Linked DNA regions of Homo sapiens. The protein of the gene in region 4 interacts with the protein of the main gene of each other region in a pairwise test. Each region holds a gene or a part of one and is shown on either strand. Other genes may lie near its edges. The genes, in order: NEBL, CDK18, MYLIP and MIPOL1.

Region 1 (7,025 bases), on a different chromosome or scaffold from region 4:
TGGTAGCCTGAGATATCCTAAAGGAAAAACACAATCTACAGAAAAGGAAATTCAGGAAACACTTGTCTAATTGATGAAGCAGATCTGTGGATCCTGAATTCAACCTTTTTTTTTTTTTTTTTTTTTTTTTGAGACAGAGGCTCACTCTGTTGCTCTAGTTGGAGTGCAGTGGCATGATCTTGGTTCGCTGCAGCCTCAACTTCCCAGGCTCAAGCAATCCTCCCACCTCAGCCTCCTGAGTAGCTGGCACCACAGGTGCATGCCAACAAACGGCTAATTTTTGTATTTTTGGTAGAGACCAGCTTTTGCCATGTTGCCCAGGCTTGTCTTCAACTCCTGAGCTCAAGCATTCTGCCCACCTTGGCCTCCTGAAGTACTGGGATTACAGGCCTGAGCCAGAGTGTCCAGCCCCATTATCTCTTTATGTGGCTTTTAACAAGCTATTCAAATATTCTCTACTTAGGGATCATATATCAAATTAGAGAACAGTTTAATATTTACTATAAGAATTTCATCCATGTAAGCTGTCTAAATGAGATTAAGATTTGCTCTATAAATTGCATTGAATGGGACTCAGAAAACAGTACCATGTGACTGACATAAACCTGCGTGTCCTTTTCATTTTCTGCAATTTCAACAGCAACTACTGACAGCACATTAATCAGTTGCTTTCAACTTTCATTTGGTATTTAACACCCATGATGAAAACGTTTTATTAAAACGCTAAGTAGCTTTTTTCCAGTTATATGTTTTATCTACAAAATCATGAAACACTTTAGAAAAACCCTACCTCACTCTGGAGCTGTGTAACTTCTCCTGCAAAAACACTGTCAATTGTGGCTGGCATCCGCTTATAAAGAGAATTAGAAAGGTCAGCTTTAATGGTGCCTTTGTATTTTGCCTGGGGGAAAAAAAAACAGGAAAAAAATAAATAAATAAACTTCCATTTTTTTAAACTGTGATTATAAGTAGAAAAGAAGAAACTTTCTCCCAAAACAGAATTGATTTTAAAATCTGCAGACCATTTTAATTTTAGATACCAGAGCTGACAAACTCCAGGATTCTGAAGAGATAGAAATAAATCCAATTTATCATAGAGAACGCTTTCAATGAGACATGCAAGGACATAATGGCTTTCTATTTAAATGCAAGCACATTTCTAAAAGTAAATCTATTTGTGTATATTGACAGTTTCATGCTGGATGAGTGAGCAAACAATTCGAGTTGTTCCAGAAAATGCAAGTCGTTAGAATCTACTATCTAGAACTTGACAAAGGACAGTGTTCTTTTATTCAGGTCTTCTCAGCCTCCTCCTGCTCCAGGGGGAGAGGGGAGTGAGTGCTTTTTTGTTGTTTATGTGCCTACCCACCTCTAGCCTGCACTGTCTTTAAGCCATCTCAGTCACTACTCTAAAGACAAACACTCTTTCCTCTTGGGAAAACTAAGGTTCAAGGGAACACAATAGATTGCTCACTTCCAATATTTTGCTCTGCAATTAACTCCTTCAGGAAACATAATCAATAATTGAGAACATCAAGTATTTATCTGCACGGGAGAATGGAACATAGCTAAGACAAACAAACTATGTTCTTCCATTATCTGCAGATGAGTTCCTGATGTTCTTCCTGCTCAGAGCTAGATTTCAGTATTGATTTATTGAGCACAGATCCTGTGCTAGCCTTCTGCTACCACACTCTTTGGATTTTGGTACTTAATGAAAGAAAACGTACTGATTTCATTCAAAATTGTTTCGCATTAGCAGAAATAATCCCAAGGACATCCAGTTGATCTTTTTCCAACATAATTTATGAAACACTAGAGGTCAGTCATTTACAACACTATTTCATTTCCGTTTCTTTTCAAACGTATCTCTTCTAAGTGATCTATTCACAGACTACAGTAATGCCTCACCACAGAAATCATCATCGTTAACATTGTGCTTTACAATGCAACATAAACTGTAGTTCTAAATGCTCTCAGAAAGAAACTACATAATTTTTCAGCTGGAAAATGAATATAGCGTATTCCTCAGTCTGTGATTTTATAATAGGTATCACTGTTGAACTGAACTTTATCCTACTCCAAAATAGTTTAAATACATTTAAAATTATTTATCAAAGATATCACATTTTAGAAAACTGGTAAATCTTATTTATTTCCAAAATGATATTCAATCATTTATCTCTGATATATCTATTAGGAAACAAAATAATGGAACTTCTAAAGTGAACTATTGTGCCAGTGCTTTTACTTATTTAATAAAAAGATGCCTTTTCAAGAGGAATCGTATATAAATAAGAAAGATTTAGAGTCAAAATATAGACATATATAATAAAATGTATGAAGCATACATAGTAAAATCTGTCAATCTATATGAGTTAAATGACAGCGCATCACATTAGATAATTATGTAGCTATTACTAACATTCAGTAGTGCTTTTGAAAATATTATTCTTCATCTCTTTAATGCACAGACTTTCATCTATATAATAAGAAAAAGATAAATGCAAGCCAGTTTGCAAGCTTTTGATACCTTACCTCAGAAATAAAAGCACCGATATTTTTTACATGGTTTAGCATAGGACTGTCAGTCACAAATGTACACTTATCCTTGGACTTTTTAAACTCTTCTTTATAACGGATCTAAAAAAGAGAATGATTTACATAAGAAGAGAAAAAGAAAAACAATTCTAATGGCCTTTTTTGAATGATAATTAGGTTGATAAAGTCCATTTACTGAAGTAAATACTCAAGTGTGAAAGGGACCTCAAAACAAGCCAAGTTAAATAAACGGCTATCCAGCACAGGATTGCAAAGATGATGAGGCATAGTGAGGAAAGACCATTCTTTAGATAAGCGAGGGTCCAGTTAAGCATCAACACCAGGCGTGCTGGCTACGGGTGATGGGTCCTGTTTACCCAGCCAGCCCAGTGCAATTAGCAAGCATGTGCCATCTCGCTCCTACAAGTGTCCTGGTGTTTTGTTGCTTTTAAGCCTTGACACATAAGCCTTTGGCCAAACAGAAACACAGCTGCCTACCTCAAGGTAGAAAATAAGTAGTCAGCATGACAGATGTGACCAATTAAGAAGTAGAGGCGAAATTAAATGGGGATCACTATTACCGTTATTACCTAGACATGCTTGATTAGAGGAAGAGGCTTAAATTGTGGCCAACGTGGGCTTCCTGTTACTAATTCCTCCCAATTTATGAGCACCCATAGGCTTCCCAATCCTCCTCCTGAGCGCAGAGAAGAACTGAACCTGCCCAGAAAGCTTGCTATGTGGTGGAGATCATTCCAGAAGGCCTTCTTGCTGGAGATCAGCAAGACAAAGCCCAGTGAGGCTTAGCTAAACCTGCTCATCTCTTCTCTGCAACTCACAAGTCAAATGACTCACTCTCTTCCCCTTTGGGGATAGGCCAGAATTGTTATGCCGGGGGAAGACCCGGGTGGATATTTGAGCCCAAAAGAAGTCAGGAAATGTGGAGAAGGACCTAAAGTATAATCACACTGTCACACTAATTGCTGCACAATCTGGAAACTGGGAAGGCAAAACTATGACTCATTGAGAAGATGCAGGTAATTTGCTAAAAGTTGTATCACTCTGTAATATGCTCGTGTTTATCCTCCCAAGACCATAAATACTTAAACTGAAAAAGTGTTCCTGTTTCAGATGATAAATTATATGTTCTCCCTAATTATAACCCAAAAGTGGAGCTGAATTGTATATACTACCTGGTTCTTAGAGGATGTGAATAATATTGATGTTATACACTAATGGTACATGGAGATTTTCCCATATGCAAGCCTGATTTGACGGGCATTACTTAACCTGTGGTAGAACTAGATACAGATTAAGTGAAGTTATTTCAAAATCCCATATTTCACTGCTGTGACTCTTGGATATCAGATGCCTACCACATTAAACATTTGCTTTATTCATGAAATCAACACGAGAACATATTTATCTTATCTGAGCACTAAATTACTTTTTTTTCTTCTCAGAGATTAGCCATAATTTTAGGTTCCTGCAAATCACCCTCCTCAGCCACTAGTAATTAAACTGTTAATGGCAGTATGATAAATAGTAGGCTATTTTGATCATATGGAGAAAAAAGTATCTCCGTTATATAATTAAGTGTGAGAGAAAATAGCCTATCATTAGGCTTAAGTTTGACTCATTATTTTTATCTTTTGCCACCATCTATTCCCCATCACATTCACATTCTTCACTGCAGTGGTATGTGCTTGTGGCTACAGCCTCCTGATAAAGTCTGACACATGCAGAACGTTCAGGACAGGAGGACTGGATAAGGGTGAGGTATTTACTTCTTCTGTTAGGCAGACAAATAGCTCAGTCTTAATTGTAGACTCTATTTTTTTTTCTTGGGTCTTTATTAAAAAGATACACATATTTGTATATTTTAAATGAAGGTGTATTTAAAATTTAAGATCCTTTACAATTGTACAATTCAAGAGAAATTGTACAATTTGTTAGAAGTCACACACAATCATGTGTGATTTCAAGTGAATTGTGCAATATGAATGACAATAAGCAAAGAATGTTAGATTTTTAAATACATAAGGAATATTTATATAAATATTAGATACATATTAGTAGCCTTCCTACACCAAGATAACAGGAAATGATCATTGAAAGGGAACTATATTGGTCAATGAAACAAATCTTAGGTAAAATAAAAATCACTGAATAGATTGCTATATTTTATTACAGCCATGTCTACATCTTACAATTTCGGGTTGACACCATCTATTGGATAGACTGGCCACTCCCATTATCTCCTATTAAAAGAGCCCAGATGGATTAATGAGAGCAGCCAGGCTCCTGCCCAGCCCCAGAGGACAAGCTGATCTAAACCAGGCATGGTCATGCCATCCAGTGTTTGGCCTGGGGAGCCACACTCTCTGTGACTTTAGTGGAAATCTTCCCAGAAGTGCTTCTAGTGTTTCTGGTACAAAGGGAGAGATGCTGCACAACCCTGTGACATTCTGTCTTCCACATTTTTCTTTCTCAATCAAAGGGAAGGCAGCAGCAATGATGTCATTACCAAGGAATAAGCCACCATACTAATGACGACAGAATAGAAGGAAAGGAGCCTGGGAGACTGATAACACCCATAGTACCCAGCCTGAACTACCTACCTCCGGGCTTTATATGTGGAGGCTGGGGAAACAAAAACCTACTTGTTAAGCCATTGTGTTAGAGTTTTCCTGTTTTTACAGTCATCTGCACTCCTACCGAATACACAACCCAACACCAAAAGACAAAAAGGGCAAAATTGATGACTTTATGATCATTAAGATGTCCCAAACATTGACCTTCTCTTTTGCCCTCACCCACAAATCCCACGTCTCCATTACAATTAGGATGAATTTAGTGCAGGGTCGCTTCCTCCTCCTGGCCAAGTTTGTTTGAATGAGTATGAGATTAGCTAAAGGCTGAAATCGGATGACAGACATGGAGATGTTTGCGGATCTTTCCTTTCACAAGAATTCTTAACTGAAAGTATCTGGAAAGGCTCTTCACAAGTGAAATCATACAAGTTAAATTCAATACACCCTGGAAGGAAAAACAATGGCTCCATCATTATTTAACTGGGCTGGACATAGCTAAGATCACTCTCCCAGGTTTTCTGATACCATCTAAGCTTTCTCTGGAGGAGTAACCACAGAATTTAATGTTTTTGGCATTGAAAGGATTTACCCACAACAACGTTCATTTGCCTGGAAAATATTCTTCCTGCTGCCATGCAGATGAACACCCTAAACAGCCTTGAACTAAACACTGAGAGGCTGCATGCAGATGTGGTCCACCTGCTCTGCAGAAGGCTCTTTCTGCCTAATCTACAAGAAACATACAAAAGATTCCCTTTTGCCCAATCTTTTTTATGACTCCCCATCAGAAGACTACTAGATCCAGGATTCTGAATGCTCAATAGAGAGGATAGGTTTAACTTATTCAAGGGATTGATTAGATAATGTTAGGTTAGACTAACAGGAATAAATATGACAGAGAGAATATCTGTGAAAATATATCTGAGAAAATAATAGTATTATGTGATTAACAGAAAAATAAAAGAGGCTGCCTCAGAAGACCAGCTGTTCTTCAAGACTGGGAAGTGAGTTGTGCAAAGAGGAACCCCATAATGTGGGTAGAGCAAGTGCAAAGCAGAAACTAGGTGGGGGGAGAAAGAGAAAGAAAGAAAAATGCCTTATACTGATGCCCAAAGTGAAGCCACTTGACCTGAAAAACGGACATTTCTCTCTATGGAGAATTCTAAGCAGTGCAGGCTTCCTAGGGCTGATCTCTAGGCCAATCTTGCTTAACATTTCTATAAAATTGTCTGACAAGGGGATGATATAGCAGTGTCTACAGGTCTGCTGACTCCAAGCTGTCTCAGTAAGGGAAACGGCAAACTGAGATGAACTTCAGAAGTTCTCAAAGGGCCAGGCAAGAGGGCAGAAAACTACAGATTAGATCTAGCCCTAGTGTGGTTAAAATAATTCAAACTATTATTTAAAGATGATGGGTCCTAAGCTATCAGCTACAGGTCAGAAATTAGGAATGAAATGGCTCTGATGGTCTACAGATTATCAAGCTGATCTAACAGCTTTCTGCAGCTCCCAAGTCTAAGAAACTCTTCATAGCATCATAAAGGGTGCTAGAAGCTAAGCAAAACATCATCCTGCTCTACACGTGATCTAGACCGTCCACATCTGTACCACTCTGCACAGTTCTGATTATTACATATTGGTTATTAAGGATATATGAAAGCTGGAAGAAGTCCAAAGAGTAACAATTAGGCTGCACCATGAAGAGAAGTCCATGAAACCATCCCTCTCATCTACAGAAACGAAGCAGGGCCAGCCCGGTGGCTCACACCTGTAATCCCAGCACTCTGGGAGAACGATGCAGGAGAATCACTTAAAGCCAAGAGCTTGAGACCAGCCTGGGCAACATAGTGAGACTCCATCTCTACGAAAAAGAAAATGAAAATTAGCCAG
Region 2 (7,025 bases), on a different chromosome or scaffold from region 4:
GTGCCCCACTGGAAGAGAAGTACATAAATCCATTCTCCTGGGGAACCTTGGGGCGGAGTCACAGCAGCCATTCATAACCACCGGCGGCTTGGCTTGCAATTTGGGCTGATTTTTCATTTTACACCAAATCATACACTTGTTCATTTTAACATAAAAATAGTACTTCTCTTTCAAAATTTTCACTGGGACTGATGCTTGGGGAAGATTCATCGTATTTACTATAGGGGCCCTCCTGGACCCTCTGGGTCTCTGGTAACCCCCCACAGGCCTCTGGGGGAGGATTTCAAATGCACAGGCTTGGGGGTCTATTTAAGCCAGGGAAACCCTAACCTATTATATTTCAGACCTAATTTTTTAACATCCATTTCAGCAGGATGTCACAAGGCTTTTAGGCAAAGGAAGTTAGGCAGTTCTTCCCCGAGGCCCTTGGGGAAGCAAAGGAGAGTCTGGAGGTGTGGCCAGGCCTGTCCTCCCCTCCTCGGTCCCCACAGTGCTCACTCACCACATATCAATGGGGGTGGAGTACTCTGTGGATCCCAGCAGCACATCGGGGGGCCTGTACCACAGGGTCACCACCTCATTGGAGTAAGTCTTTGTGGGCACTGACTTGGCCCTGGCCAGTCCTGGGGGCAGACATGTCACTGGACCTCTGTCCACAGGTGCTGTGGGGTTGACTGCTATGCCCTCCCCCACTGCACCCACACCCTGAGGCACCCCAGTAGCGTCAGACCCCCACCCTAGCCCCAGCCTCACCAAAGTCGGCCAGCTTCAGCTCCCCCCTCTCGTTGATGAGCAGGTTCTGGGGCTTCAGGTCCCGGTGCAGGATCTTGCGGTGGTGACAGTAGGCGAGGCCCCGGAGCAGCTGGAACATGAAAATCTGGGGGAGGGGGAAGAGAAATGTGGGGTGGAAGGTGGCCCTGAGCCTCTGCTCCAAGGCTGGGACCAGGATGGGGGCAGGGGCTTGGCAGTGAGGTCAGCACAAGCCCCTCATTCTCCTGCACACCCTGCAGCCCCCATCCTGGACCCCACCCACACCAGGGAATCCCATCCAGAGGGGAGGACAGCAGGGGTGCAGAGGACGCAGTGAGTGTGGGGGAGGCCAGCGAAGTCTCAGTCAGGAGCACGGGGGTCAGGATGCCCGCCTATGTGGAGACATATGTGCTTGATCCCTTTTTTTTTTTTTTTTCTTTTAGAGTCAGGGTTTTACTCTGTCACCCAGGCTGGAGTGCAGTGGTGTGATCATGGCTCACTGCAGCCTCAACCTCCCGGGCTCAAGTGGCCCTCCTGCCTCAGCCTCTCAAGCAGCTGGGACTATGGGTGCACGCTACTGTGCCCGGCTAATTTTTCAATTTTTAGTAGAGATGAGGTCTTGCCATGTTGCCCAGGCTGGTCTCAAACTCCTGGGCTCAAGCCATCTTCCTGCCTTGGCCTCCCAGTGCTGGGATTACAGGCGTGGGCCACCATGCCCAGCCTTGATTCTTTAACAAACACCAGGAGAGGTCATTCATAACCCCGAGCTTCCCCAGAAGCCTCCCTGCATTTTGGCAGGTAGCTCACACTCCCATTTGACAGACTGGGAAACTGATGTTCAGAGTTGAGAGTGGGTTTTATACCAACAGCTAGACAGTGGCAGACAGTGTGTGTCTGTTCTTGGGGTAAAGCGCTCAACCCAGTTCCTGGACTCGTTGATGGCATTGCCCTCTCCCTCTTTCCTACGTGGGAAGGTCTGAGCCACCTCAGCAGCCGGATCCCTGGTGGTGAGAGTGGGTCCCCACACTGGGCTTCTGGACAGGTGGCTGCCAAGATGGGGGGACCCTGCCCCCGAGGCCTCACCTTGACGTTGTGCATGCTCATGAGGTTCCCACAGTGGTCCAGATACTGCTTCAGGTCACTGTCCTGGAACACAGAGCGTGGCTCAGTCCTGCCCCACGCTGACCCCTGGCCAGAAGCCCAGACACAGGCTGAGGAGAGGAAGCCCCTCCCTGGGAAGGGCCCACGCCCACTAGTGGGACAGGTCCCTGGCTCGAGCCACCCGTAAGCCTGAGCTCTTGGCCCACTCCTGCACGGGAGCATCTGAAAATCTGATTCCAGAACAAGGCCTGGGTCGCCCTCATCCCACTACTCCCACTCCCTCAGCTTCCCACTCCCCTACCCACACCCCGTTTCCACCACAAGAGGGAGAGGCGGCCAGCCCCAGCCGGACTCTCACCAGGTACTCAAACACCAGGGTGAGGGACCGATCTGTGTGGATGAGGTCATGCAGGGTCACAATATTGGCGTGCTTCAGGTTCTTCAGCAGAGACACTGTGAGGAGACAGATCCACCTGGGTCCCTAGGACCCCATGTGTCCCCATACCCTCTTTTCTTGGGGTCAGCGCCAGGAGTCCCATTCCAGCAATGATCCTCTACCCCCAGCTCCCACAAGGGTGCAGGCTGGTGAACCCCTCCTCCTGAAGCCCCCAGGGGAGCGTGGGAGCCTAGGATGCTGTACCCTCTCGGATGGCAGTGCAGGGCGCTCCCTCCTCGTGCTCCAGCCGGATCTCTTTCAGGGCCACAAGGTTCTCCGTCAGTTTGCTGCGCCCTTTGAAGACTGTGGCATAGGTGCCCTGGGATGGAGGGCCACAGCGGCCCCAGGCGCATTCAGGTGCTGCTGGCCTCTGTCCAGTGCCTCCCCATTTGTGCCTCTGCCTGGGCTACGACTGGGGCCTGAGTGCCCTTCCTCCCTTTACTGACATGCTGTTTCCTCCAAAGCCTACTTCCTCCAGGAAGCATCCCTAATGACTCCCCAGTCGGAGTGAATCCGTCCTTCCTCTAAGCCCCAGCACGCCGCGTGCCCGTCTATGATAACACCAGGTTTTTTCTTCCTTATACGATGCTGATGTTTACACAGAGGTCACCTCTTTGGGCTCCTGGAGGGAAAGGGCTGTGTGTTCCCTCTCTCTATAAACCTTCACCCACCCCAGGCCTCTGCACAGTGACAACAAAAATAGCTAAGTGACACAGCACTTCCTATGTGCCAGGCATTGTCTGTGTGCCGTACATAAGCTGATTACAGTAACCTGCCCAATCCTCACAATAACCCTATGTGATAGGACAATTACTGTCTCATTGGACAGAGGAAGAAACTGAGGCACACAGAGAGGTCATGTAACTTGCCAAAGGTCACAGAGCTAGTAAATGGTGGAGCTAGGTTTTGAACCCAGGCAAGAAGGACTTGCAGAAAAAAAAAAGACTGGATTCTGCCCAGGGCCATGGCTACTCTATCCTCACGCCCTCCTTCAGGATCTGAGCTCACTTCAATCCCTGCCAAAGCCTGGGCCAGAGCGCACAGCCAAGACTGTGCACCTCTATGGGGCAGGGGCCAGGAGAGGGCCAACCAGAGAGGGCCGACCAGAGAGGGCCGACTAGGGAGGTCTGCCCCTCCTCCAAGCCATCCTGCCTGGCTATTCGGAGAAGACCAAACCCAGCGTCTTACCTCTCCCAGTTTGTCCAGTTTCACGTATGTTTCCAGTTTCCCAAAGCCAATGTCTGACTGAGAGGGAGAGACATAGAATGCCGTGAGCTTGAAGCCCTTAGCAGCTCCACAGACATGACGCCTCCCCCAACTCCAGCCTCTGGGAGGGAAGGGATGAGACTCCATGGTGGAAGGGGCTCCTTTTCCCTTTATCCCTGTGATAAAGGACAGAGCTCGTGAAAGTGTGAGTTTCTTCCTCCCAGGACAGCCAAGAGTGTAGAGCCCAGAGCTGTGGCACCTGGGATTGTTGCACATCTTGACTACCTGTGTCTCCGACTGAGACCACGAGCTCCTCCAGAGTGAGTGCTGCCTTTTTTCCCATTGTACCTTGAGTGTCCAGTTCAGAATCCACCTCTCTGACTGTGTCTCTCATCAGCGCACTTCTAGCTCAGGTGTATCCAACCCTTAACAAGACGGATTCCTGGACCCCCTAGCCGGAGAGGCTGATTCTATAGGTGTCTGGAGGTAGAGTCTGTGTTTTGTAAGATGTCCCAAACAGCTCTGATAGGCAGTTAGGACTGGAAGGCACATGCCAGCTGGCCTATTGATCTTAACCATGTGGAGACCGTGGGACCCACTGTGGGCTTAGAGTCCCATTCCAGCCCAAGTGAGACCCATCTAGGAAATGGATGTTGATGTAGGAGGACGAGCTAGTTGAATGCACTCAAGCCAGCAGGTGGCACCAGAGGCCCAGGAATCTTCCTCGAAATCCCATCTAGGCCTCAGCTGGGACTGATATGCCCATGCTGGGGAGGGCATATCACCCCACCTTGTGTCCTCTGACCCTCTTGGGACTCACCAGGGAGGCCCGGCGGGACATGCGGCTGAGCGGCTTGGGCAGATCTGGGCTCTCCATCTGTAGCTTCTGTAGGAATTCCTGGGGCAGGCGGATATCCATGGGCAGAGAGAGCCTCTTGCTGACGTCCTGTGGTGACAGGGATGAGATGGGGACACCACTGTTGGTTTCAGGGTAGCTAGGGCTGTGGGGCTCCAGACTTTCACTCTGGACCTAGCGTTCCCTGCAGAACAACCATTCAGAGCCCAATCACAGGCTGTGACCCCAGGCTCACAGCTGCTCCCAGTGTGTGCTCAAGACATACACGTGAACACCCGGGGCTGCTGTGTGACCTTAGCACAGCCAGGTCACTCTCTGCCTCTCTGGGCCACAGTATCACCATCTGTGCAACATCAGTCTCATGCCCTTACAGGCACCGATTCTGTAAGTATATTTTTTCATATACTTGGGCATATGTGTGTGGATCAAATAGTCAAATTGTCTAGCCCTTGCTAAATTCAGGAATGTTCTAAGCACTTGGCATAGATAAACCCATTTAATCCATGATGACCATTTTAAAGACAAGGAGACCATGGTGCACAGAGGTTGAGTAACTTGCTCAAAGTCACAGAGCTAATGAATGGCAGAGGTGGAATTTGAACTCACAAAGTCTGGCTGTAAGGCAGCTGCCCTCCTGTGCACACCCTTGTGCGTGCATCCTGCCACCTGCCGGGGCAGAGCTCCAGAGGCCCTTACCTCCATGGAGAAGCGGCGCTGGTTCTGCCGCCGCTGGAACTGCACGCCAGGGGAGAGCTGCCCCGGCTCCTCCCCGCTGTCTGTTGGGGAGAAGGTGCTGCACTCCTGCGGGGGGTCTCTGCCAAGAGGACCGAGCTGCAAGTCTAAGAGGGACAGGCGTCAGCTCCCCTCCCTGCCTCTCTGTCCTGAGGGAGAGAAGGGTAGCCCCCCTCCCCCAGCGCTGTGCTCCTCCCCTAAGGCCAGTGGGGAGGGGGTGGGCGGGGAGGGGAAGGTGACTGGGGAGTGTCTGGTAGGTGGGAGAGGTGCTGGGTGGGCCCAGACCCCTCACTCTCATTCCGCCGGTTGTGGAGCTGGTTGAATTGCTCCGTGAATTCAGCCAAGGATTCTTCAATGGTCTCAGTGCGGGGCACTGACAGGGAGAAACGGCGCTTAAAGTTCTTCATCTTGTTCATGATCATGAGGGACTGGGCAGCCGGGTCCTGAGATGGGAAGTGTGAGAAGAGCAGTTGAAAAGAACAAGGCAACCAGTCCAGGTCTCCACCCACTGGGAATTCAGCTCTCTCATCAAGCTCTGTCGCCCTGTATGCCACCATCACTGGGAGCCAGGGTTGTGTCTTCTGCAAAGTTTGACCCCTCTGAGGGTGGGTGTTCACCCTCTTCTTCCCAGTCACCTTCTTCCTCCCAGTGACCCTCAGCACTGCCTCCACTGCCCACCGCCCGCCCCGCCACGCCCTGTGCAGTTCTCTATGGACCACCTAGTCCAGCAAAGTATTGGTCATAATAGCAGGCATGATGTGCAAAGAGGATCCTGAAGGCCCCCCAGACCTAAGCCCTTTAGCTGCTGGAGGTCTAGAGAGTTCTGGGGGAAGGGCTGGGGTGGCAGGGAGGGTGCCAGAACCAGGCAGTCCTTGGACCAGCAGAAATTTACCAACTTGTGTCCAAGGGCCTGAATGTGTCAACAGCCAATAAATCTTACTGACCAAGGCCCGTAAACTGAATGTCAGCTTGGCCAACACCCTTGGGACATGATTGGGTCCAAACCTCATTTCACCTCTGATACTGACACCTGAAGGTCTCTGCTCTGGCATGCCCCAGGAGGCAAGAGGGGAAAAAGAGGAGGAAGGGAAGAGTGCATCAGAGCTGGCCAGCTGCACCTTCTCTCCAGCTGAAATACAGGAGGTCAGGAGCAGTGGAAGGTCTCAGGGGAAACACGGAAGCTTGCCATTAATAGAGTCGAGCCCTAGGGAAGATGAGGCTTGATCCCTGCAGGCCTCTTCCCATGCCAGAGCCCTCCAAGCAGGCAGGTATCCCCTACCGAGAACACCATGGAGGAGCGGGGTAAGCTGCTCTGCCCACCCCCACGGTCCTGTCCCCAACCATGAAAGCTTTCTTCTTCAGGCTACCCAGCTCCTCGTGCCCTCTGAATTAGAGGATGCCCTGCTGGCCACCCAATGAGACCCATGCAACTGCTTCTTCCTGCAGACCCTCCCTTCTCCCTCCTGCCCTGAAAACCCAGAGCAGCGCTGTCTCACCTCCCCTCCACTTCCCTTCATGGTTTCCTACACGCTCAGTGCAGCCCCCCTCTCATCCTGCTCTGCACACACTGCCCTTGAGGCCTCACAAGGGCTTCCACCCATGCTGGCAAGAAGGCACCAGGGGGTGAGCCCTATGATGGGCCGCCCTGCACCCGCTCCCAGCTGTTACCCATGCACCAGCACCAGGCACAGCCCACTCCTGGAGGATGCTCTCAGCCCTGCGACTGGCCAGCACCTAGTTGCCAAGGCGACCAGGCCCTTCCCGAATCCTCCTGGTTTAAGGGATTATGGGTCAGTAACATGTTGGCTTTGCTTAATGATCACATCCTTCTGTCCTCAGCCAGCCTGGAAAGGGTCCTCTGTCTGGCAGCGCATGCTCCTGGCTGCCCCCAAACACAGCTCAGTGGTGGCCCTCCAGCTGCCCTGATCCTCATGGCTGGGTATG
Region 3 (7,354 bases), on a different chromosome or scaffold from region 4:
CTAGTTATGGTTTCTATTTTTAAATTCTATATTCATACAGCTGACCTTTTTTTTTCCACTATGCTGGTTAATTTTAATGCTATCTTTAAAAGATGAGAGCTAATTGAGAGAAAAAGAGAGCAGACACAGATAACTTGGGCATCTCTCTGGCTTCAATCACTGCTCAATCTAATATAGTTCCCACCCTGGGTGTTCAGAGTCTCTTATTTGGAGTTAGACCCAGCTGGGGCTTGAAACTGGCTCCAGACATTCAGCAGCATTAGCAGATGGTGGAATCCTCGAGGAAGTAATTCTACTGCGGGTTTTCTATTCCCTAACCAGGTCTTTTGAGCATAATGTGCTTTCTCACCAGCTCACTCAGCCTCCTCATTCTGTAACTAACCAGTCTCTCCTTAGCTCTACTCAAGGAATAAATTACAAAACAGAGATGGAGAGAAAAGACAGAGAGAGAAAGCGAGGAGAGAGAGGGGTCATGGTCCAGTATATTCCATACATGCTAGTGGGAAGCCAGTATTTTTTTTTTTTTTTTTTTTTGCTTCCCAGTCATAAGGATTTCTTACTGCCCGCCCCTCCCACCCCCAAGTGCCATTTTCCTATTTTTAGCTTTGTTTTTGTTTTAAGAAATCCTTCTCTTCAGTCTTATCTGGGGATTCTTAATTTCAAAACAATTGAAATCTTCACCAACCATCCTATAGCAGAAGCACTATCTGGGTTTGGATTAGAAATATCCCTGTCACGAGCACAGTGGCTCACACCTGTAATCCCAACTCTTTGGGAGGCAGAGGCAGGAGGGTCGCTTGAGCCCGGGAGTTTGAGACCAACCTGAGCAACATAGCGAGACACCCATCTCTACAAAAAAATACAAAAATTAACTGGGTGTCGTGGCACCTGCTTGTGGTCCCAGCTACGCTGGAGGCTGATGCGGGAAGACTGCTTGAGCCCAGGAGTTCAAGGCCGCAGTGAGCTATTTTCACATCACTGCCTGCCCTCTAGTCTGGCAACAGAGCAAGACTCTGTCTCTGAAAAAAAATTAAAAAAAAAAAATTCTTGTAAATCTTCTACTTCCAACTATTGTGCAAATGACAATTGTTAAAAATAGGTCGGGGCGGTGGCTCACACTTGTAATCCCAGCACTTTGGGAGGCCAAGGCGGGCAGATCACTTGAGGTCAGGAGTTCGAGACCAGCCTGACCAACATAGCAAAACCCTGTCTCTACTAAAAAAGCAAAAAATTAGCCGGGTGTGGGGGCGCGTGCCTATAATCCCAGCTACTCGGGAGGCTAAGGTAGGAGAATTGCTTGAACCAGGGAGTCGGAGGCTACAGTGAGCCAAGATCATGCCATTGCACTCCAGCCTGGGCAACAAGAACAAAACTCTGTCTAAACAACAACAACAACAACAACAAAACTATGAAAAATGTGGGGTTTTGTTTGTTTTTTGTTTTGTTTGAGAAAGGGTCTCACTCCCTTCGGCCAAGCTGGAGTGCAGTGGTGAGATCATGATTGACTGAAGCCTGGACTTTCTGGACTCAAGCCATCCTCCCACCTCAGCACGCTGAGTATCTGGGACTACAGACACATGCCATCATGCCTGGCTAATTTTTTATATTTTTAGTAGAGATGGGGTTTTGCCATTTTGCTCAGGCTGATCTCAAACTCCTGGGCTCAAGGGATCTGCCTGCCTCGGCCTCCCAGGGCTCTGGGATGACAGGCATGAGCCACCACGCCTGGCCAAAAAGTTTTAAATAAAATAAACATGTCAGATTTTACCTATGCTTCTACAAACTATTTTACAAGCTTAGATTTTTTAAAAAAACAATGAAATCATACTTGCAAAAGAAAAATCCCTGCTAAAACCAAAAATATAAGTTATTTTTAAAGTAGTCCACAAAGTGGGTATTTGGTTTGGGTGTTTGCTTGTTTTATTTTTGTTTATTTTTTTTTTCTTGGCCAACCAATATTTTCCCGTTCTACTCATTTCCACACCTGGTCCCATTGATTCTATGAGTTTCCAGTTAGCCAGCTTTAGTTTCTATTGTTCATAAACAAAAATACTAACCAATATAACTGGTCTCCCTATTGCCCCTCGCCTCTTCTTCCTCTTCTGAAACTTCTAGCAATTAAGCATAAAGTAGACAAGGAATGAACCAAACGCTATCTTCCAGATAAATTCCCCAGATTATTAGTAAACTGGAATTCAGGGAATAGGCACTGCAGTTAATACAAGAAGGGACTGTTTCAGCCCACAATAGCATGAGGTGTATTTATAAGACAGAAAGATGTGAGAGTGCACCTGTTCCTCTGCAACAGTGGGGGTTAGGACTTGGACAGTTTACAGTTTTACTCGGTCAGCTTTAGCAAAGAACTGTGTGTGGGAGGATCCCTCCTTTTTTTTTAGCCTTGGGCTCTGATATCGTACCTGGTTGTTCGGAAATAAAGGCCACTAACAGATCCTTGGGACTCGTGAAGGGGGGTAGGGACAGGAAAAGTCATCATTAAGCAGTGAAGGCACTGAACTTATAGCTCCCCTTACATACACGGGGACATTCAAATGCTTTTGTGAACGTTATTATCTTTGCTGCGCTTCCCAACAATGCTGGGTGGAGACAGAGCAGATATTGCCATCTCCATTTTACTGTTGACAACACCAAGCTTCAGACAGATGAAGTAAGTTTTCTCTTTTTTTTTCTTTCGTTGTTTTCTTTTTGTTGTTGTTGTTGTTTAGAGACAGGGTCTTTTGCTCTGTCGCCTAGGCTGGAGTGCAGTAGGGGGATCACAGCACACTGCAGCCTCGAACTCCCAGGCTCAAGTGATCCTCCCACCTCAGCCTCCCATGTAGCTGAGACTACAGGCAGGCGCCACCACGCCTGGCTAATTTTTTGTATTTTGTGTAGAGATGGGGTTTCGCTGTGTTGCGAAACCGGGCTGGTCTCAAACTGCTGGGCTCAGGCGATCCTCCTGCCTCGGCCTCCAAAAGTGCTGGGATTACAGGTGTGAGCCATCGAGCTGGCCTGAAGTAAGTTTGCTAAGTTTCCACGGCTGAAACCCACATCATCTGGCTCCTATAAAGAAATCAAAAAGGTAGGCTATGTAATATATTGGCAAAGAGGAACAAGCGGTAAATGAGTGAAGGGTTGTAGACCTTTAATAGCTAATATTGCAGTAATGCCACCTGTTAGGTCAGGAGATGAGCACCTTACCTTAAGACGAGGACAACATCTGGTTGCCTGTGAGAAGGGACAGGCAGGGTATCAGGTGCTGCACAAATGTTTAATGAATGAGTGAGATAAGACAGGAGGTAGAATGAGCAACCTGAGAGAGGGCCTGGTACCCTGTAAGGCGTTTTGATTCAGCAGAACGAGTAAGGAGAAGCCCTTCCGGAGTGTAACACACCAGCACTAGACCAAGACACCTGGCTCACTGGTCAGCTGCAAAAACTTTCATACTCAGATTTTGTTTTTCTCAATGATGAGGTCTTAATAAGGAACAACAATTCTGCCTCCAAGCAACCCACTGTGGCTAATCCTGGTGGAAAAGAGTTTTCTTTTTCTCTTTTTTTTTTCTTTTTTCTTTTTCTTTTCTTTTTTTTTTTTTTTTTTTTTTTTTTTTTGAGACAGGGTTTTTTGCTCTTCTTGCCCAAGCTACAGTGCAGTGACACAATCTCAGCTCACTGCAACCTCCGCCTCCTGGGTTCAAGCGATTCTCCTGCCTCAGCCTCCCAGGTAGCTGGGATTACAGGTGCCCGCCACCACGCCTGGCTATTTTGTTTTTTTTTTTGTATTTTTAGTAGAGACGGGGGTTTCACCATGTTTGCCAGGCTGGTCTCGAATCTGACCTCAGGTGATCCACCCATCTCGGCCTCCCAAAGTGCTGGGATTACAGGCGTGAGCCACCATGCCCGGACGAGAACAGTTTTCTTTAGGCTTTGGGTTGCTCCTTTTCCTTTTTGCTTTCACAACCGAAATGCGTGCTCAGAGTGATCCAAGATATTTGAAGAACAGTGGCAGCTTGGAGGTGTTTAATCACCGTAAATTCGAGACGGCAGAAAGGCGTCCCCGCCTGGAGCCCCGGGCGATCGCTCACTCTGAGCAGCGTCGCCCAGCGGACAGAGGCGGCTGGTGTGTTCCGGGGTCTCCCTCCCTTCCCGCAGCACTCGGCGCCCGCAAGCTGCCACCTCCCGGGGCGGCCAGGGAAACTCAGCCGGCTCTGGGAGGCGGGGGCCGCGGTCGAGGGGCGCCGCTATTGGCTGATCGGGCGGGGGAGGAGGGGCAGGGAGGCCGTGATTGGCGGGGACCCGAGCTGAAGGGGGCGGGGCCGCTATATCAGCAGAGTCCCTGTCGCAGCGCAGGCAGTTGGGCTGCTGGAGTGCGGCGCCACCGCGGAGGACAGGGGCAGCTGGCGGGCAGCGGGTGAGGGGGTGGCGGGGACGCGAGTGGCGGCCGCGGGGCCCCGGACAAGGGTCCGCAGAGCTGCAGCCTTCGAGGGCCAGCCCTCTCCGAGTCCGGGGCTGGGTCCCACCAGTGACAAGGCGGCAGCCCCGCGCACACCAAAGAGAAGGCGGCTGTGGCGGCAGCGGCAGCCCCAGCCATGCTGTGTTATGTGACGAGGCCGGACGCGGTGCTGATGGAGGTGGAGGTGGAGGCGAAAGCCAACGGCGAGGACTGCCTCAACCAGGTGAGGGCGAGGGGCAAGAAGGGGCCCCGGCGGGTCCCGCGAGGCCGAGGGGCCTCGCAGCGACGCCTGGCACTCTGGCGCGCCCCCTACTAGGGGCCGGGAGGCACTGCGGCGGCAGCCGGGGGGAGCGCGTCCCCTCCTCTCCACGGGCGTGGGGCGCGCGGTCTCCTCCTGGCGCGCGTGGGGTGCGCGGAGAAAGCGCGCAGCGGGGGTCCCCAGCGCTGAGGGCCGGGCGCAGCCCGCAGCCGGGATCCACCCCCCAGCGCCCCATCATCCCCCCAACCCAGCACTTTCCCGGAAGAAGGCGGCTCCGCACACCTGCCGCAGGTATGTGCGTGATGCCGCCTGTCGGGTCCCCGCGGCGCCTGGCAGTGCCACCCGCGTGCCAGGATGGGATGGAGTGGCTCGAAGCAGTCTCGGGCCCCAGGGGTTCTTGGCAGACAAGCCGGGCCCTTGTCTCACGCTGCTTCTCAGGCTGCTGCTCTCAAATGCACCGTTCACCTGCATCTCCGGGTTTGCGGGGGACGGGAGGAATAGGTTTGGGTCATCTACTGCTCGGTTGTTTTTAAGCATGTGTTTCCTTAACAGTGAGGGAGATCGGTGCCAAATAGTGCAGAGGTGGTATGGCAGACAGCACATGTGATCCCAGGAAAACGCTGTGCCCTCAACCCCTCTAGCTCTGAGATGTTTGGAAAACCGCTTGTGAAGCTTAGCTGACACTTGTGGCGTGTTCCCTCAATGTGTTTGATTTTTGGAGTCCAAATGGTTAAAATTGCCCAGATAATAAGTCGCCAAAAATCAGCTGTGCAGAGTATGCTGGTGGAGGGAATTCCGGTGATTGGAATACGAAGGAAAATACCCTGTAGTTTCCCCTCCTCATCTTTTGGAAGGCTACTTTTGAGGACTCCTTTTTTCTCTATTGCAATTGGTCATGCCCTAGACGTTAAAAGGAATTATGAGCCTCCATACTAGAGCTCGTGGTTTGGTATCATTGGAGCCGTGGAACTTTGTTTTTCCAGTTTAGATCAGGAATTGTAACACCATTGAACTTTGTAAAAAGCACCAGCAATCTTAGCCTCAGGGAGCCGTTGGGTTTGCTTTGATACGTACCATTTGCTCATCCAGGCTGCATTCCTTTTTGTTTTAGGTGTGCAGGCGACTGGGAATCATAGAAGTTGACTATTTTGGACTGCAGTTTACGGGTAGCAAAGGTGAAAGTTTATGGCTAAACCTGAGAAACCGGATCTCCCAGCAGATGGATGGGCTAGCCCCTTACAGGCTTAAACTTAGAGTCAAGTTCTTCGTGGAGCCTCATCTCATCTTACAGGAGCAGACTAGGTAAAGTGAGCTAAAATAAACCAATGTCAAATTGACCTTTGGTTCCCTTTAGAAGGGCCGCTGCACCTTCCCAGAGATACTCACAGGCAAGTTTGTTTTGATGCGGAGTTCCATCTTAACTTAGGTTTTCCATGCAGGTCCTTTTGTTGAGGTGGAGGGGGAGCTACCTACTTGGTCTGAGTGCATTTTCCAATCCTTCTTTTAGTTTTTCTTGTCTTTATAAACTTGATGGGTGAGCAGGGTTGAATTCTTACAAACACTTGAGATAAGTGCTACCCCAGGAAAAAAAAAAAAAAAAAAAGAAACCACCCTACCCGAGTGACTGACTTCCTGATAGCAGCATCTAATGCCCGATAGTAACCTCTGCCTCAGCAGTGTTACTATAGGTCATTGCAGACTGTTCTAACAGAAAGCAGGAAACAGTTCCTCTTGGGTTACTTAAACTTGGTCAGTTTCTTCAGCCTAGTGTCAGATTACAGTGTGCAGCCAAGAGCTCTGTTTGACTTCATGCAGAATTTTTAAAGTTTTTAAGTTTCTTGAAAATGTAATTTCATGAACTCTTCTAAGGCTACTGTAACTGAATTCCAACCCACAGATATGTTACACACGATTGGTGAGTATAGATTGAATTTATCTCTCTACGTTGTAAAACACCACCAACAGTGGTAGACAACTGAAGCATGTGGTCTCATTTTTCAAACAAAATATGTTCTCCCCTGGACTGACTCTAATACTTGATTCTCAAGAATGAGCCAAACTAGGAAATTGATATTTAATATTTATTGAAAGGCAGGAGACTTCAATCTTACAGTGGCATATCAAAAAATTAAAAAGGAAAACAGCTACTTTGAAGACATAGCAAGCTTTGGATCTAAGTTCTAATGTTTTTCATAATTCTTTGGCTGAGAAATTTGCCATGCATATGAAAAATGTGATTCTAAAAATTTTAAGTAATGATGAATGAGCATTATCCTTTAAGAGTTTTTTACATGACATTTGCTTGTTTGTTTTACCAAAGGACTGATAAAGACTCATTTTGAAATACTTATCATTTGAATTTGAAATTTCCACTTTGCCTTGTAATCGAGCTTTAAAGGTTGAGGCAGACGTTTAATTTTGTTTCTGAATGAAGATGGTATATTGAGTTCTTGGTACTCCTGAAAATATCTTGCAAAATATTCAAGTGATTGCATGCTTAAGGATGTTTTAGCTGTCTGTATTAATCAGAATAGACTTTTTAAAATTATTATTTAAAGCCGATTTGTGAAAGCTTTGCGCTTCACTGTCATAACTTGCAGTCGAATACAAGATATAACACAACATATTGGAATTTTCATTGTGTAG
Region 4 (7,025 bases):
AACACCTAGCAATTAAATTATAACCAAAAACAAGTATGGGATTTATAGTTAAAACTGTTAATAATTGGTTTTTCAAGATATAAAAATAGCATGCCCTCAGCCTGGCATGGTGGCTCACACCTGTAATCCCAGCACTTTGGGGGGCTGAGGTGGGTAGATCACCTGAGGTCAGGAGTTCAAGACCAGCCTGGCCAATGTGGTAAAACCCCATCTCTACTAAAAATACAAAAATTAGCCAGGCATGATGGCACGTGCCTGTAATCCCAGCTACTCGGGAGGCTGAAGCACAAGAATCGCATGAACCTGGGAGGCAGAGGTTGCAGTGAGCCAAGATCGTGCCACTGCACTCCAGCCTGAGCAACAGAGAGAGACTCCATCTCAAAAAATAATAATAATAATAATAATAATATCATATCCTCAAATAAGTTTAAACTGATAAAAACAGATTAAAGCTTTTCTGATATTAATGAATAGTGTAGTTGTCTATTGCTACCTATATTAGTCTGTTTTCACACTGCTGATGAAAACATACCCAAGACTAGGCAATTTGCAAAAGAAAGAGGTTTAATAGACTCACAGTTCCACATGGATCGAGAGGCCTCACAATCATCATGGAAGGTAAAAGGCACATTTCACATGGTGGTGGCAGGAGAGAATGAAAGCCAAGCGAAAGGGTTCTATAAAACCATCAGAACTCACCTGGACTTATTCACTACCAGGAGAACAGTATGGGGGAACTGCCCCCATGATTCAAGTATCTCCCACTGGGTCCCTTCCACCACATGAGGGAATTACGGGAGCTACAATTCAAGATGAGATTTGAGTGGGAATACAGCCAAACCATATCATTCCGCCCCTGGTTCCTCCCAAATCTCATGTCCTAACATTTCAAAACCAATCATGTCTTCCCAACAATCCCCCAAAGTCTTAACTCATTTCAGCATTAACTCAAAAGTCCACAGCCCTAAGTCTCATCCAAGACAAGGCAAGTCTTTTCCACCTGTGAGCCTGCAAAATCAAAAGCAAGTTAGTTCCTAGATACAATGGGGGTACAGGCATTGGGTAAATACAGCCATTCCAAATGGGAGAAATTGGCCAAAATGAAGGGGCCATAGGCCCAATGCAAGTCCAAAATCCAGCAGGACAGTCAAATCTTAAGGCTCCAAAATTATCTCCTTTGACTCCATGTCTCACATGCAGGTCACACTGATGCAAGAGGTGGGTTCCTACATCTTGGGCAGCTCTGCCCCTGTGGCTTTGCAGGGTACAGCCTCCCTCCCAGCTGCTTTCACGTATCAGTGTTGAGTGTCTGAGGCTTTTCCAGGAGCATGGTGCAAGCTGTCAGTGGATCTACCATTCTGGGGTCTGGAGGATGGTGGCCCCCTTCTCACAGTTCCACTAGGCAGTGCTCCAGTAGGGACTTTGTGTGGGGGATCCAATCCCACATTTCCCTTATGCACTGCCCTACCAGAAGTTCTCCATGAGGGCCCCATCCCTGTAGCAAACTTCTGCCTGGATATCCAGGCATTTCCATATATCCTCTTAAATCTAGGCGAAGATTTGCAAACCCCAGTTCTTGACTTCGGTGCACTCACAGGCTCAACATCACATGGAAGCTTCCAAGGCTTCGGGCCTGCGCACTCTGAAGCCATGGCCTGAGCTCTACATTGGCCCCTTTCAGCCAAGGCTGGCGTGTCTGGGACACAGGGTACCAAGTCCTTGGACATAGCATGGGGACCCTAAGCTTGGTCCATGAAACCATTTTTTCCTCCTAGGCCTTTGGGCCTATGATGGGAGGGGCTGCCATGAAGACCTCTGACATACCCTGGGGACATTTTCCCCATTGTCTTGGGGATGAACATTTGGCTCCTTGTTACTTAGGCAAATTTCTGCAGCTGGCTTGAATTTCTCCTCAGAAAATGGGTTTTTCTTTTCAATTGCAGGGTCAGGCTGCAAATTTTCTGAACTTTTATGCTCTGCTTCCCTTATAAAACCGAATGTGTTTCAGGCACATGTATGTTTATATGGTACTATTCACAACAGCAAAGACTTGGAATCAACCCAAATGTCCAACAATGACAGACTGGATTAAGACAATGTGGCACATTTACACCATGGAATACTATGCAGCCATAAAAAAGCATGAGATCATGTCCTTTGCAGGGACATGGATGAAGCTGGAAACCATCATTCTGAGCAAACTATCACAAGGACAGAAAACCAAACACCGCAAGTTCTCACTCATAGGTGGGAACTGAACAATGAGATCACTTGGACACAGGGTAGGCAACATCACACACCAGGGCCTGTTGGGGGATGGGGAGCTGGCGGGGGACAGCATTTGGAGAAACACCCAATGTAAATGATGAGTTGATGGATGCAGCAAACCAACATGGCACATGTATATACCTATGTATCAAACCTGCACTTTGTGTACATGTACCCTAGAACTTAAGGTATTAAAAAAAAAAAACTGAATGTGTTTTAACAGCAGCCATGTCACCTCTTGAAAGCTTTGTTGCTTAAAAATTTCTTCCACTGGCTGGGTGCAGTGGCTTATACCTGTAATCCCTGCACTTTGGGAGGCCGAGGTGGGTGGATCACCTGAGGTCAGGAGTTCCAGACCAGCCTGGCCAACATGATGAAATCCTGTCTCTACTAAAAATACAAAAAATTAGCTGGGCGTGGTAGTGCATGCCTGTAATCCCAGCTACTCAGGAGGCTGAAGCAGGAGAATCACTTGAACCCAGAGGTGGAGGTTGCAGTGAACTGAGATCGTGTCACTGCACCCCAGCCTGGACAATAAAAGCAAAACTCCGTCTCAAAAAAAAAAACAAAAAACTTATTCCATCAGATATCTTAAATCATCTCTCTCAAGTTCAAAGTTCGACAAATCTCTGGGGCAGGAGCAAAATGCCGCCAGTCTCTTTGCTTTTGCTACAGTTCTCAACAAGTTCCTCATTTCTATCTGAGACCACCTCAGCCTAGATTTTATTGTCCATATCACTATCAGCATTTTGGGCAAAGCCATTCAATAAGTCTCCAGGAAGTTCCAAACTTTCCCACATTTTCCTGTCTTCTTCTGAGCCCTCCAAACTATTCCAGCCTCTGCTTGTTACCCAGTTTCAAAGTCACTTCCACATTTTCAGGTATCTTTTCAGCAGCACCCCACTCTACTGTATTAGTCCATTTACTGTGTTAGTCTGTTTACTGTGTTAGTCCGTTTTCACGCTGCTAATAAAGACATACTTGAGACCAGGCAATTTACAAAAGAAAGAGGTTTAATGGGCTCGCAGTTCCACGTGGCTTGGGAGGCCTCACAATCATCGTGAAAGGTGAAAGGCACATCTCACATGGCGGCAGCAAAAAAGAATGAAAGCCAAGCAAAAGGGGTTTCCCCTTATAAAACCATCACATCTCATGGACTTATTCACTACCATGAGAACGGTATGAGAGAAACCACCCATGATTCAATTATCTCCCACTGGATCCCTCCCACAACATGAAGGAATTATGGCAGCTACAATTCAAGATGAGATTTGCGTGGGGACACAGGCAAACTATATCACTACTTAACACATTAAACCCAAATTCAACAGCTTAAAACAATACACATTTGCAATCTCACTACTTAACACATTAAACCCAAATTCAACAGCTTAAAACAATACACATTTGCAATCTCACAGTTGCTAAAAATCAGAAATTGAGTGTTGCTTGGCTAAGTCCTCCAGCCCAGGGTCTCTCAAAAGGCTGGAATCGAAGTGTCAGCCAGGGGTGCAGTCATCTCAATGTTCAACAGGGAGAGGATCTGCTTCCAAACTCTCTCGGTGGTCGTTGGCAGGATTAATATCCCTGAGGGGGCTGGGCGCAGTGGCTCACGTCTGTAATCCCAGCACTTTGAGAGGCCAAGGTGGGCGGACCACGTGGTCAGGAGATCAAGACCATCCTGGCTAACGTGGTGAAACCCTGTCGCTACTAAAAATATAAAAAATTAGCTGGGCGTGGTGGCATGTGCCTGCAGTCCCAGCTACTTGGGAGGCTGAGGCAGGAGAATTGCTTGAACCCGGGAGGCGGAGGTTGCAGTGAGCCAAGATCGCACCACTGCTTTCCAGCCTGGGCGGCAGAGTGAGACTTCATCTCAAATAAATAAATAAACAAATGCCTGAGGTTTTTTAGACTGAGAACCTCAGTTCCTTACTGGCTGGAGGTCCCCTTCAGTTCCTTGACAGGTGGGCCTTTTCACAGGTCAGTTCACAACATGACAGCTGACTTCCTCAAGGTGAGTGAGCAACAGAGTGCCAGCAAAAAGGGAAGTCATAGATTTTGTAATCTAATCTGAGAAGTGACATCACACCATTTTTGCCATATTCTAGTAGAAGTGAGCCTCTAGGTCTAGTTCACCCTCAAGAGGAAGGAACTACACAAGAGTGAATACCAAGGTCATTTTAGAAGGCTCCCTATCACAGGTAGTATAATGGAAAAAGCAACTGGAATAAAAACCAGAACAAAAATAGGTTCTAGTAACTATGTGACTAAACTGAGAAGGTAGCCTAAATGACCCCTACGGTCTCTTGGCAGTCTTTTGAAAAAGATTACCAGAGATTAGAGATACTTCATCAAAAGGCCTCATTTCACAAAAGAAAGCTGAGTTCCAGGAAAAGTTAAAACAAACAGGTAGTGAGCCACACTTATTTTGCTCTTATGCCCAGTGCTCTTTCCACTATAGTAAACTGTTTTTGTAATTAATGCTCTAAAACAGTTCTATCTTCTCTTTATGATAGTCTCAAAATCTAATAAATTCAATAGAGAGAATAATAATACAATGCTGACAAAAGCAGCTACAATTGATTAATCTTGTGCATTATCTCTTTTTCTCTCATCAACCCTAAAGCCATCTCTAGATGGTACGTGAAGTTGCAAGTGGAAGTGAGTCATCTGCCCATCCCCAGTCCCAGGTAGCTGGACGTACTAGTAATAAGATTTGCTGGAAATAAATTATAAAAGCAACAAATAAGCAATAGACAAATACATTCACCTTGAACACACAGTCACCCTAAATATGGTAAACAAGATTAAATGTAACCTAAATAAAGTATCTAAAAACTGCAACCAGAAAAGGCAAGGTTTGTTAGTAATGAAATCCTGGAAAATTGTCCCAGAAGTCAACAATGGCAATGTAGTGCAGGCAATATGCAGGGGAGAAGGTACGGTCAGAAGCTAATGACTACAATTGGACTCACAAATACATCCTTACTAATATGAAAGCATCACCTAAGGATGATCGTACAAATTAAATATTTGTGCCACATAAATTCCCTATTTGCTCCCTTATGAAGTCTGAAGCCCTGGAGGGAGGGGACTCCCTTGTCTGAGAATCCCTCCTACTGGCACATGCCCTTTATTACCCATAATAATTTGTAGTGACTCCAAGCTGATTCAAGGAGTGCCATGAAAAACACGCATATGAACACAATTGCTTTGTGTGGGACTTATAAAGCAGGAAGGTATTTACATTAGTCATTGTGTGTGTGTTTGTGTGTGTGTGTGTGTGTGTGTAATGAAATGCAGTATGTACTGGATCCAGAATTTCTATATGAGAAAAGCTTACTTAACTGCAATGAATTGATAGTGGAAGGTGAGGCCCCTCTTAAATCTATCTGCATAACAATCAAGTAAGACTAAAAAAAACAATTATACATATCAAAGAAGGATCACACTGATGAAATTACCCTCACACCCTTCATTAGTATTAGCATATATCTAAATGTGCACTAAATTCACTTCTATAAATTACTTAAAAACAAGAAATGGGCTGGTGCAGTGGCTAATGCCTGTAATCCTGGCACTTTGGGAGGTCGAGGCAGGAGGACCTGAGGCCAGGGGTTGGATACTAGACCGGACAACAAAGGTAGACTCTGTCTCAACAAAAACAGAAAACAAAATAGCTAGGTGTGATGTTGAGCACCTGCAGTCCTATCTACTTGGGAGGTTGCAGCAGGGAAGACAGCTTGACCCCAGGTCAAGGTTACAGTGAGCTATGATTGCACCACTGTACTCCAGCCTGAGTGACAGAGCAAGATCCTGTTTCTAAAAGCAACAACAAGAACAACAACAAATACCTAGAAAGTGTTAGCTAAAAATGTTAACATGGATGGTGGGCTGAATGGTATTAAAGTAAAATTTTGGGCAATACTGAGCAAAAGGCAGGGGGCCAAGAGTAAAAGATGAACTGGGCAGCCCAAAGAGACATTTAAGGAAGAAAGGGCCTCCATCCTGGGAAGAGGTGTCACAGTTGAGCTTCACGGCCCAAGTCAATGGCTATTACGTCCTATATCATGAGTGTACTCAATCACTAGATAAAAATGTCAGAAAACCCAAGATGGAACAGCTCAAAGGACAAAATGCACCTTAAAATATTACAATAACTATATTATATATTTTTACATATTTTTACTCAAAATATCCAGAACTGTCTAGACATTCATCCTTTTCTTTCCTAGCCTTTTAAATAATATCAAAGAAAGACTGTCTCTTCTTTCTTTTCTCACTTCTTACCTGTCTTTTGTTCTTCAGATTTACAGGGTGAGAAGAAAGTGGGAGAAGTAAAAACAATTCAGACAAGAATCAAACTGGCCTCTAATTAGTCTTAAGGTAAAACTGGTAAACCAAATAAAGTATGTTTAGAGATCTGAAATCCAACACCAAAACACTATAACACATGCTGCTTTACAATACTGGCCAGGTGTGGTGGCTTGTGCCTGTAATCCCAGCATTTAGGGAGGCTGGGGAAGGAGGATCACTTGAGCTCAGGAGTTTAAAACCAGCCTGGGCAACATGGCAAAACCCCATCTCCACAAAAAAATATTAAAATTAGCCTGGGCATGTTGGTGTGTGCCTGTAACCCTAGCTACTTGGGAAGCCGAGGTGAGAGGATCACTTCAGCCCAGGAGGCAGAGGCTGCAGTGAACCGAGATCACCCCACTGCACTCCAGCCTGGGTGACAGAGGTACACCTTGTCTCAA

The links.
Region 1: the proteins of MIPOL1 (region 4) and NEBL interact in binary tests that used the Homo sapiens proteins (3 or more experiments, as listed by UniProt).
Region 2: the proteins of MIPOL1 (region 4) and CDK18 interact in binary tests that used the Homo sapiens proteins (3 or more experiments, as listed by UniProt).
Region 3: the proteins of MIPOL1 (region 4) and MYLIP interact in binary tests that used the Homo sapiens proteins (3 or more experiments, as listed by UniProt).

The regions. Positions count from the first base shown.
Region 1 is NC_000010.11:20,887,307-20,894,331, forward strand, and holds part of NEBL (nebulette), read right to left. Parts: intron 2,644-7,025; coding exon 2,539-2,643; intron 902-2,538; coding exon 791-901; intron 1-790. UniProt on the Homo sapiens protein: Binds to actin and plays an important role in the assembly of the Z-disk. May functionally link sarcomeric actin to the desmin intermediate filaments in the heart muscle sarcomeres.
Region 2 is NC_000001.11:205,521,646-205,528,670, reverse strand, and holds part of CDK18 (cyclin-dependent kinase 18), read right to left. Parts: intron 5,525-7,025; 5' UTR 5,504-5,524; coding exon 5,374-5,503; intron 5,189-5,373; coding exon 5,046-5,188; coding exon of another isoform or gene 4,956-5,045; intron 4,440-4,955; coding exon 4,314-4,439; intron 3,533-4,313; coding exon 3,476-3,532; intron 2,607-3,475; coding exon 2,492-2,606; intron 2,305-2,491; coding exon 2,210-2,304; intron 1,897-2,209; coding exon 1,834-1,896; intron 878-1,833; coding exon 754-877; intron 624-753; coding exon 503-623; intron 1-502. UniProt on the Homo sapiens protein: May play a role in signal transduction cascades in terminally differentiated cells.
Region 3 is NC_000006.12:16,124,738-16,132,091, forward strand, and holds the start of MYLIP (E3 ubiquitin-protein ligase MYLIP), read left to right. Parts: upstream 1-4,348; 5' UTR 4,349-4,585; coding exon 4,586-4,672; intron 4,673-5,819; coding exon 5,820-6,010; intron 6,011-7,354. UniProt on the Homo sapiens protein: E3 ubiquitin-protein ligase that mediates ubiquitination and subsequent proteasomal degradation of myosin regulatory light chain (MRLC), LDLR, VLDLR and LRP8. Activity depends on E2 enzymes of the UBE2D family.
Region 4 is NC_000014.9:37,200,919-37,207,943, reverse strand, and holds part of MIPOL1 (mirror-image polydactyly gene 1 protein), read right to left. Parts: intron 1-7,025.